Linked DNA regions of Homo sapiens: region 2 is linked to region 1. The links come from fine-mapping of genetic effects on gene expression. A gene starts in region 1. The other region holds a variant in brackets. All regions are shown on one strand. Distances are between the middles of the regions. Region 1 holds the start of SVBP (small vasohibin binding protein). Region 2 holds the start of P3H1 (prolyl 3-hydroxylase 1).

The links.
Region 2: its variant is fine-mapped to the expression of SVBP in fibroblasts (GTEx, PIP 0.96).

Annotation. Positions count from the first base shown.
Region 1 is chr1:42,814,702-42,820,077 of GRCh38, reverse strand. SVBP (small vasohibin binding protein) reads left to right here and starts at 2,681. Exons shown (of 3, transcript NM_199342.4): 1 at 2,681-2,888; 2 at 3,498-3,647. The coding sequence starts at 3,534. It overlaps ERMAP (erythroblast membrane associated protein (Scianna blood group)), which reads right to left and starts at 2,956. Exons shown (of 12, transcript NM_001017922.2): 1 at 2,825-2,956. RefSeq lists silencers at 2,538-2,827, 2,978-3,177, 3,738-3,807.
Region 2 is chr1:42,766,475-42,771,790 of GRCh38, reverse strand. P3H1 (prolyl 3-hydroxylase 1) reads left to right here and starts at 4,763. Exons shown (of 15, transcript NM_022356.4): 1 at 4,763-5,284. The coding sequence starts at 4,820. C1orf50 (chromosome 1 open reading frame 50) reads right to left here and starts at 4,542. Exons shown (of 5, transcript NM_024097.4): 1 at 4,401-4,542; 2 at 4,167-4,282. The coding sequence starts at 4,479. RefSeq lists silencers at 4,255-4,394, 5,015-5,124. The variant T/A (reference allele first, on the strand shown) is at 3,219.

The DNA of each region.
Region 1 (5,376 bases):
ATCTGTCACTCAAGGATGAAAGAAAATAAAGCCATTTTTAGACAAGCAAGGACTCAAAAATTTAGCTTCCATGAACCCCTTCTGGGGAGTTAGTGGAGAACATACTCCTCCAAAATGAGAGAATAAACCAAGAATGGAAAAACATAAGATCCAGAGAGCAGGGGATTTGGCACAGGAGAAACAAGAAGAGAATCCCCAGAATGTGGTTAGGTCCCTAATCCTAGGACAAGAGCTGTGAAGCAAGGCTAAGCAGAGGAGTTTGGAGCAAAGAGAGGATGAGTCTAAGGAGGGATGCTGCCAAGAAAAAAAAAAAAGACACTGGTAAATGACCTGGTTCACATCTGTAGTACCAGCCACTGAGGGGCTGAAGCGGGAGGATCACTTGAGCCCACCTCTGAAAATAAAAAATAAACAAGGGATGCATAGATCATTAAGCAAATAAAAATAGATAATTTTTTGACTCTAGAAAAAATATTATTCAATAAAGTGAATATAATCTTAGTGTAGTATATACCTCAACTGTAAAAATATTCTAGTTATATTACTATAAACTCTTGCTAGTCATTCAACAAACCAGGAAATTCTGCAGCCTGGCCAAGAGTCCACTGGTAGACACAAAAGAGACAGACAAAGCATAAACTCATGGAAAGAATAGAGAGGGGACTTTGACAGTGTTCAGCCTCAACATTCACTCCCTCCTGGCTCCAACCTTCACCTTCCCAATAAAGAATGTAGAATCCCAAACTGGTATCTCCAGTTCCGTTCTTTTCTGAAATCTTCTAATTGCTCACTGGACAATTCTTCTTGCCTATTGCCACTTGAAGCGTAATCTAGCTCTTTCTCTCTCTCGGTCCCTCTCTTGCGCGCGCGCACACACACACACACACACACACACACACACACACACGCTCCTAACTTATCCTCTTCCTCACCGTTTCCCAAACCAACTCATCACACCTTCTCCACTTTCAACAGTGGCTCAGTGGCACCACTACTTTTCCAGTCTTCCATGTGGCTTTTCCACTCCTCCATTCCCTATAGCTGGTTTGTTTTTAGCTGGCTTCTAAAGGTCCTGCCGTGTCTTCAGCTGTAATCTAGTTCATAGCTTATATGAACGTTATAAACCATACCATGTGACACAAATGTAAAATACCAGTACTACATCAAGATTTCTGAAATAGACTCTGACTTGGTTACTTTTATTAATAATAATCGAATCAGCATTTGTATAGGGTTTTTAAAAAGACATTTAATGTACTTTCCTCTGATTGCTAAAGTATAAACGTTTACTGTAGAAATTTTGGAAAAGCTGGGCGCAATTGCTCACATCTGTAATCCCAGCACTCTGGGAGACTGAGGCAGGAGGATCACTTGAGCCCAGGATTTCCAGATCACCCTGGGAAACACAGTGAGACTCCATCTCTACAAAAAAATTTTAAAAAATTAGCCAGGCATGATGGTGTGTGCCTGTAGTCCCAGATACTTTGGAGGCTGAGGTGGGAGGATTGCTTGAGCCCAGGTTACAGTGAGTTATGATCACACCACTGCACTCCAGCCTGGGTGACAGAGCAAGACCCCATCTATTTTTTAAAAATTAAATAAATAAAAAATAAACATTGTGCAGTAGATCTCTAGAACTTTTTCACCTTACAAACCTAAAATTCTATACCCTTTAAACAATTCCTCTTTTCCCTCTCTCCTAGCCACTGGCAGTCACCATTCTACTTTCTGTTTCTTAGACTTTGATTGCTTTAGATACTTCATATGAATGGAAACATGCAGTATTTGTCTTTTTGGGGCATTGTGCTCACTTTTAAGGCTTTTGATACCTAGTACTAAACTGACCTCCAGAAAGGCTGTTAACGATTTACAGTTTGACTGGAAGCGTGTGTCCATCTGGGCTGAGTTCATTGCTTGCTTAGCATCTATCAGTTGTTTCAATTCTTGCCAGTTTGATAGAGGAACAAATAGTGGACCCAAACAGGGTTTTACTTTGGATAAGGCCATTGTCCTATGAATCCTGGCTGAAATATTTGCTCCAGCACTTAGAAGCTGTGTGACCCGGGACAACTCACTTAACTTTTCAATGCTTCTGTTCCCTTATGTGTAAATGGGGATAATAATATACACGTATACATTATACACACTTATTATGAGGAATTAGTTAATAAATGTGAAGCTGTAAGAACAGTGCCTGGAATATAGTAAGCCCAAATGTAAGGTAGCTATTATCATTTTTGTCAATCCTTGCTAATGTAATACCTGGAAAATTACAGCCAGCTATTTTAATTTACATCTCCTCGGTAATCAGTTGAACGTGAATGTTCTCTGTATTTATACTGGCTATTGGTACTTCTGTCAAGATTTCCTTTTTCAAAGCACTGTGGCAAACGGGATCTCACTTGATCCTCCCAATAAACTCATGAATGAAGAAGGTGGCAATCATCAATCCCCACTTTTCGAATTAAGAAATTGAGCCTCGGAATTCGAATTCTGAGCAATTCCAATTCCAGGATTCGGATCTCACCCTCTAAAACCTAGTAGCTGTTGCAGAAAATATAACGGGAAAAAGCTTTGGTTAGCCGTAACCACCACCCACCCCGGTGTGGCTCCGCCCCTGCCCCGCCCCGGCACCGGCTTGCCCCGCCCCGCCCTCTACGCGGGTTTCCAGCCATCCTCTCTGCGCACGCGCGGCCGCTCCTGCGGGCGGAAGCCTCCTGGCGCTCGGCCCTGCGCCCCTCCCCCCGGCGCGCGGCCCCGCCCAGGACGAGGGGCGGTGGGCAGGCAGCGCTGGGTCCAGTGGTCGGGGGAAGGCGAGGATTACCCTCCCGGAGGCGTTGTCTGCGACTCGGCGGAGGCTCCAACTTCCAGTGGCCCGGTCGGGAAAGGTACAGACTCCCAAGCCTCTTGGTCGGCGGCTCCAGCGACCGCCATTTTCCTCCAGGAGAGGGAAGAGGGCAGGAGGCGGGGGCCGTCCCCTGGGGCCGGGCGGGCCGGGGCGGGGTCGGGGGGCCGGGCGGTGGGGGGCGGGCCCGGCTGGCTATGGGGCCCGGCCCCCTGGCCCCAGGAGCGGCTGCTGCGGCGGAGTTAGGCCGGCCGCAGTGGGAAAACCCTGGGCGCCCTCTGGGTCTCAGCGTCCCATTAGGACGGTTCCGCGCTGGGTGCCGCACGCCGCACAGTGGGCAACGCTTTCACAGGGGTCTTTGCATTTCACCCGCACACAGCAGCTCCTGGAGGGAGGCCAGGAAAACACTTAACCCATTTTGCAGACAGAAAACTAAGGCTCAAAGTGGGGAGGAGACTTGCCCAGGGACACCCAGCGAGGTTGTGGCCTTGGGACTCGGTTCCTACTCCCCCACATCCAGCGCCCTTGCCACCAGACCACTCTGCCTCACCTGGCAAAGGATGGGGCGGAGCTAAAGGATTAGAGGAGTAACTGGCAGGGTATTTTTTGTTTTGTTTTGTTTTGAAGATCTGCCTCTTTCTGTACCACCCAGATCAGAGCCTCCTAAGAAATATCCAGAAGTCAAGCCATGGATCCACCTGCACGTAAAGAAAAAACCAAAGTTAAAGAATCTGTCAGCAGAGTTGAGAAGGCCAAACAGAAATCAGCCCAGCAGGAGCTGAAGCAGAGACAAAGAGCAGAGGTGAGATTAAGGCGGAGGCTCTGTATGCCTGTAGTCTGCTGGAGATGATGCTGGAATAGAGAAACAGCAGAAAGGAGAACTGACAGCGAGCCATACTTGCCTCCAGGCAGGATGGGTGTTCTCCCAGGTTTAGAGGGGACAACACTGAGGTTCAGAATGGTGAGGTGGCAGCCCAGAATCACATGCCAAGTTAGTGTCAGAACCCCAGTCTGGTGCGGAGCTTTTGTGGTAAGAGACCCAAGGGAAGGAAGAAAGGAAAAAAAATGATATGTAAGGGGAAAGAAGGGGTCAGAATGAGAGAGAGCACGCAAGTGTCAGACACCCCCAGTACAGATGTTCTGGATTTGGTGCGGAAAGCAGCTACTCATGCCAGGTAGAGGCCCAAGCTTTAAACTCACCAGTGTGTTCCTTTGTTCTCTCAACGATTACAATCAACTTGAGAATAAAAAGCTTTAAACTTTACCCTGCCAATATTGAGCCACATACAGACATAAGTATTTTATTTTAGTATTTAATGTCAGGGAAAATCTTGCTGGTCTCTTTTTCCCTCTTTGTTTTGTTTATCTGTCTGCTTTGTTCATTTCCTGTCTTACATCCTTTTACTTCTCCATGGACAACTACTTTTTTTTATACTTTTACATTCAAATATATTAATAGATATCCTTGAACAATATACAGTAGTATTTTAAATTTTTACATTAATAAAATTCCTGCATTTTATTTTGCATTTTGCTTACATTGTTTTTTAGAACTATTCATGCCAATATAAGAATTTAGTTTATTCTCATTAATTTTTATAATAGTCTATTTTATGCATCCATTTTACTTAGTATATTTATTCATTCTTACAGAGATGCACATTTAAATTATTTATAGTATTTTTTGCTATTACAAACATTGCTGTAGTGAAAAGCTTTTAGGTGTCTCCTTTGGCACCTGCCTTAGAATTTCTGTAGGTTATTTAACTAGAAAAATTACTGGGTACATTCTCAATTTTACTAGACATTGCCACATTGCTTTTTTTTTTTGAGATGGAGTCTCTTTTTATTTTTTATTTTTTATTATTATACTTTAAGTTCTAGGGTACCTGTGCACAACATGCAGGTTTGTTACATATGTATACATGTGCCATGTTGGTGTGCTGCACCCATTAACTCGTCATTTACATTAGGTATATCTCCTAATGCTTTCCCTCCCCCCTCCCCCCACCCCACAACAGGCCCTGGTGTGTGATGTTCCCCTTCCTGTGTCCAAGTGTTCTCATTGTTCAGTTCCCACCTATGAGTGAGAACATGCGGTGTTTGGTTTTTTGTTCTTACGATAGTTTGCTGAGAATGATGGTTTCCAGCTTCATCCATGTCCCTACAAAGGACATGAACTCATCCCTTTTTATGGCTGCATAGTATTCCATGGTGTATATGTGCCACATTTTCTTAATCCAGTCTATCATTGATGGACACTTGGGTTGGTTCCAAGTCTTTGCTATTGTGAATAGTGCCATAATAAACATACGTGTGCATGTGTCTTTATAGCAGCATGGTTTATAATCCTTTGGGTATATACCCAGTAATGGGATGGCTGGGTCAAATGGTATTTCTAGTTCTAGATCCTTGAGGAATCACCACATTGTCTTCCATAATGGTTGAACTAGTTTACAGTCCCACCAACAGTGTAAAAGTGTTCCTATTTCTCCACATCCTCTCCAGCACCTGTTGTTTCCTGACTTTTT
Region 2 (5,316 bases), 48 kb after region 1:
TGCCAGGCTGGCCTCGAACTCCTGGCCTCAAGTGATACGCCTGCCTCAGCCTCCCAAAGTACTGGGATTACAGGCATGAGCCACCGTGCTCAGCTAATACATTTTACTTAACCTAATATATCAAAAACATTTTCATTTTAACATGTAATCACTATTTGTAAGTTGTTAATGAAATATTTTGCATTTTTTGTTTGTTTTTGTTTCTTTTTTTGGTCCTTCTCAGTCTAATCCATATTTTGCATTTGATATTAAGCCTTCAAAATATAGTGTTTATTTTGTACTCACAGCACATCTCAATTTGGATGCTAAATTTTCATCAGAAATACTTCATCTGTATTTAAACTTAATAAAATTTATATGTGAAAAAGTTGATTCACATACTCAAATTGTTCCAATATACTTGAGTTCCAATAATTGAAGTAATTATCAGGTTTTTTAAATTCAAATTAATTAAAATCAAATAAAATACAAAATTCGGTTCCTCAGCCACACTAACAACGTAACACAAGTGCTTAACAGACATAATGTTGCTAGTGGCTACCTAAAGCACAGCTCCAGTGAGTAATAGATACCAAAAAGTAAAGATGATTAAAGCTAATATTATATGTACTCATAACAATGCACTGTTATGAAGGAAATAACCACAATTATGTCGTAGAAGCAGGTTAAAGATAACAAATGAGTTAAGTAAAAAAGCTACTTCATTTTTATGAAGTTTAATAATAGGGAGTGGTGGGGAATTGGAAAGTATATGTAGCCTAGAGGTATTTGAATTCAATTTAATAATACTGTCATTTGGATGGGGTAGGGTACGGTCTTCTTCAGACAAGAAGGCCTCACCAAGGATATAACATTTGACTTGGGTCTAAATGAAAGGAGAGGACCGACCATGAAAAAAGCTGGAAAAAAAAAAGTTTGCAGGCATTTGAGGCCAGTGCAGCTGAAGAGTAGTTAGTGATGGGCAATGTGTAGAACAGGGTTTAAAAAGAGAGCAGAGACCAGATTGTGCAGTCTTGTAGCCCATGGTAAAAGAATTTGCATTTTGTTCCAAGAATGAAAGCCCAGGTGTGGTGGCTCACACCTGTAATCCCAGCACTTTGGGAGGCCGTAGCGGATGGATCACCTGAGGTCGGGCGTTTGAGACCAGCCTGACCAACATGGAGAAACCCTGTCTCTACTAAAAATACAAAATTAGCCAGGCATGGCGGCACATGTCTATAATCCCAGCTACTTGGGAGGCTGAGGCAGGAGAATTGCTTGAACTCGGTAGGCAGAGGTTGCTGTGAGCCAAGATGGCGCCATTGCACTCCAGCCTGGGCAACAAGAGCGAAACTCCATCTCAAAAAAAAAAAAAAGAAAGAAAGAAAGGAGGAGCCATATATGGCCAAGGAGAGAGTAGGTATTTCTAGAGCTAAGGTAGTTCCAGATTAGGGGTGGCCTTATAATAACCCTCCCTTTTCTTAAGGTGTTAGCAATAAATCTCATAAACAAAATTTGAATTTATATTTTGAAGAGTTAATATAAAATGCAAAATATGGATTAGTCTGAGGTCCAAAAAAAGGAAAAAAGAAACAAACAAAAAAAATGCAAAATATTTCACGAACAACTTAAAAACAAAAGAGCCTCATAAAAAAGAAAGGAAGGGAAGAGTACCTACAACTACTAAGCACTAACCCTGGCCTCAACTACTCTGAGGCCCTTTACATTCATCTCATTTACTTCTCACAACACCTTTATGACGCTGGAGATGATAACCTCACTTTCTCATTTTAGCAATTAAGACTCACAGACATGAGGCAACCTGTCCAAGGTTTCACAGATAATAAACAGCAAAGGATCTGAACACAGGTCAGATTCCAAAATTCATGCCTTAATACCAGGCCTCCTGAGCTTTCTGAACACACACCAATACCTGGGTCAGTCTTGCTAAAAAAGTACTTTTTTTTTTGAGACGGAGTCTTACTTTGTCACCCAGGCTGGAGTGAAGTGGCACAATCTCCACTCACTGCAACATCTGCCTCCCAGGTTCAAGTGATTCTCCGGCCTCAGCCTCATGAGTAGCTGGAATTACGGGCGTCTGCCACCATGCCCGGCTAATTTTTTGTATTTTTAGTAGAGACAGGGTTTCACTATGTTGGCCAGGCTGGTCTTGAATTCCTGATCTCGTGATCCACCCGCCTTGGCCTCCCAAAGTGCTCGGATTACAAGCGTGAGCCACTGCACCCAGCCCACCACCATTTTTTTTTCTTTTTAGACTTGCTCTGTCACCCAGGCTGGAGTGCAGTGGTGTGATCTCAGCTCACTGCAACCTCTGCCTCCCAGGTTCAAGCAGTTCTCCCGCCTCAGCCTCCAGAGTAGCTTCGGACTACAGGCACACACCACCATGCCCGGCTAATTTTTTGTATTTTAGTAGAGACAGGGTTTCACATGTCGCCCAGGTTGGTCTCCAACTCCTGAGCTCAGGCAATCCTCCCGCCTTAGCCTCCCAAAGTGCTAAGATTACAGGCGTGAGCCACCACACCCAGCCTCATTTTTTTGTTTTTTTTTAAGAGTCTCACTCTGTCACCAATTCTGGAGTACAGTGGTGCGATCTCGGCTCACTGCAACCTCTGTCTCCTGGGCTCAAGCGATTCTCATGCCTCAGCCTCCCGAGTAGCTGAGACTACAGGCATGAGTCACCACACCTTTTAGTAGAGACGGGGTTTCACCATGTTGGCCAGACTGGTCTCGAACTCCTGACTTCAAATGATCCACCCACCTTGGCCTCCCAAAGTGCTGGGATTACAAGTGTGAGCCACGGCACCTGGCCAAAAAGTACATTTTAGATAGTTAATATGTTTGATTCAATTTGTTTGTCTCTAAAGTTTTTTTTTTCTTCAGCTTCTCAAATACAGATTGTATTGGGGAAACAGAGGCAGCATAATAATGCATCCTCTGTATTTCATAAGATTATAGGATGAAAGACAAAAACTGTGTTCTTTCTTCCATCTGTTCAGGCCATCGTAATAAACACGATAGTCATTCAATAGCACATGAATACGTTGTGTGCACAAGATTCTGTCCCTGCCAACCTCCCTCCCAATAAGAGTAATCTGATTAACTAGATGCATATTCTCTTAATAAATAAAAGTTGCACTTTGCTCCCCAGCTCTTCAAAAAGAAGAAAGCCAAGTTTTGAATTAAAGGAGCTTTCTGCGTATCTGAATTTTTCTTAATTT[T/A]AAAAAAAAAAGGATTCGAAGGATTTCTAGGATCATTGAAAAAAAAAGAGATGTGAGGGAATTTGAGCACATTAAATAATTTTGGGCAAAGCAAAGACCCTGGAACATAATCAAGGCCAAATCTGATAGTGTATACAGGGATAAGGGGCCATGATAATCTTTAAAACAGCAGGACCCTCCATCTGTGGACACTGAAGAGGGTGTACAACTGGAAGTCTTGATAAGAGATAAGAAGGAATCTGGTTTTTCATTGAATAATGACAAAACTTTAGATCTTGGAGCTCTACTACTTCAAACCTTTCACTTCACAGATAAAATAGTTGAGGTCCAGAGAGAAGTAATCTGCCTTAAGTCGCACTGCAAGTTAGTATCAAAAGTGGGATTAATACTCATGTGTCCAAACTTCCAGTGTTTTTTCCATTATTTCACATTTCCTCCTTATTTGACTTATTTTGGCCATCCATATATAAACACTGGGCTTGGGAATACTGTGTTTAATGAGGACTAAACTTGGAGTCCTTGCCCTGCTAGAAGATGTTTAAACTCTCAGGTAACAAAGATCTTATGGGAAGCAGCTTAAAATAAGCGGACCTTGAAACTTCCCGAAGAACTTTTCTTTGTGTCAAATGGGAAGAATAACTCTGTACTGCCTACCTCACAAGGCTGTCCTAAGGTGCAAATGAAATAATGAACACTAAAGTGTTGTGTAAACCTTCCCACGAAGGAAGATTATGGGCACTCAAGTTGCAGTTAGAGGAACCTTTGGTCCCAGAAGGTCATTCGAATCAGGCCACCGACTCACAATGACAGTCGGCTTTACTCGTCTGTAAAATGGAGACAAGAGCAAATGCCACCCCCACCATAGGTGGTAGTGAGGTCTGAGCCGAAAGACGCAGAGTACAACGTGAACGAAGATGGTTATTCGCTGCCCCGGCCGCGCCTCCTCACCTTCTGCACCTGCTCTGCGAGCGCCACGAGGTCTAAGGGGTCCCCGGCCCGGTGGGTGTGGTAGGGGCTCACCAGGGCCAGGCCGCCGGGGGTCGGGGTGAGCTCCACCAGGGCTCCTGCGACACACACCCAGGAACACAAGCCGTGAGCTCCCGCCGTCGGCCTCCCGCGGAGCCCCGAGACCGGCTGCCTCGCGGGAGCTGACTTCCCCCTGCTGACTCCCGCCCCGCATACCTCCCTGGCCTGCAGCTGGCGGCGCTCCTTGCCTTTCAAGGACCCCCTCGGTCCGCCCCGGCGCGGCGGCGTCCTCCATGACAGCGCCTTATCCTCCCCACTCCCTGGGCTGTGCGAGTAGGAAGAGCCTGCGCATAAAGGCGCGTGGGCGGAGCTTCCGTCTTTCTTGTCTACTGGGCGTCAGTTCGACTGAGCAAGGCCTGAGCTCGGAGGCGGGGCTCCGGCTGACGCGCCGGGATTCGCTGAGGGCCGGTGGGGGGATCCGGGCTGACTGAAAGGAAAAGAGGCGGTGCAAGCCTCGTGGGCATGCGCCGCCCGGCTTGGAAGGTGGGGCTTCGCCCGGGGGCGGGCCTTCGCCGGGGGTAGGACTCCGGCCTTGGTGGCGGGTGGCTGGCGGTTCCGTTAGGTCTGAGGGAGCGATGGCGGTACGCGCGTTGAAGCTGCTGACCACACTGCTGGCTGTCGTGGCCGCTGCCTCCCAAGCCGAGGTCGAGTCCGAGGCAGGATGGGGCATGGTGACGCCTGATCTGCTCTTCGCCGAGGGGACCGCAGCCTACGCGCGCGGGGACTGGCCCGGGGTGGTCCTGAGCATGGAACGGGCGCTGCGCTCCCGGGCAGCCCTCCGCGCCCTTCGCCTGCGCTGCCGCACCCAGTGTGCCGCCGACTTCCCGTGGGAGCTGGACCCCGACTGGTCCCCCAGCCCGGCCCAGGCCTCGGGCGCCGCCGCCCTGCGCGACCTGAGCTTCTTCGGGGGCCTTCTGCGTCGCGCTGCCTGCCTGCGCCGCTGCCTCGGGCCGCCGGCCGCCCACTCGCTCAGCGAAGAGATGGAGCTGGAGTTCCGCAAGCGGAGCCCCTACAACTACCTGCAGGTCGCCTACTTCAAGGTGCAGACCTGCCTGGAACCAGGCGGCCGGGG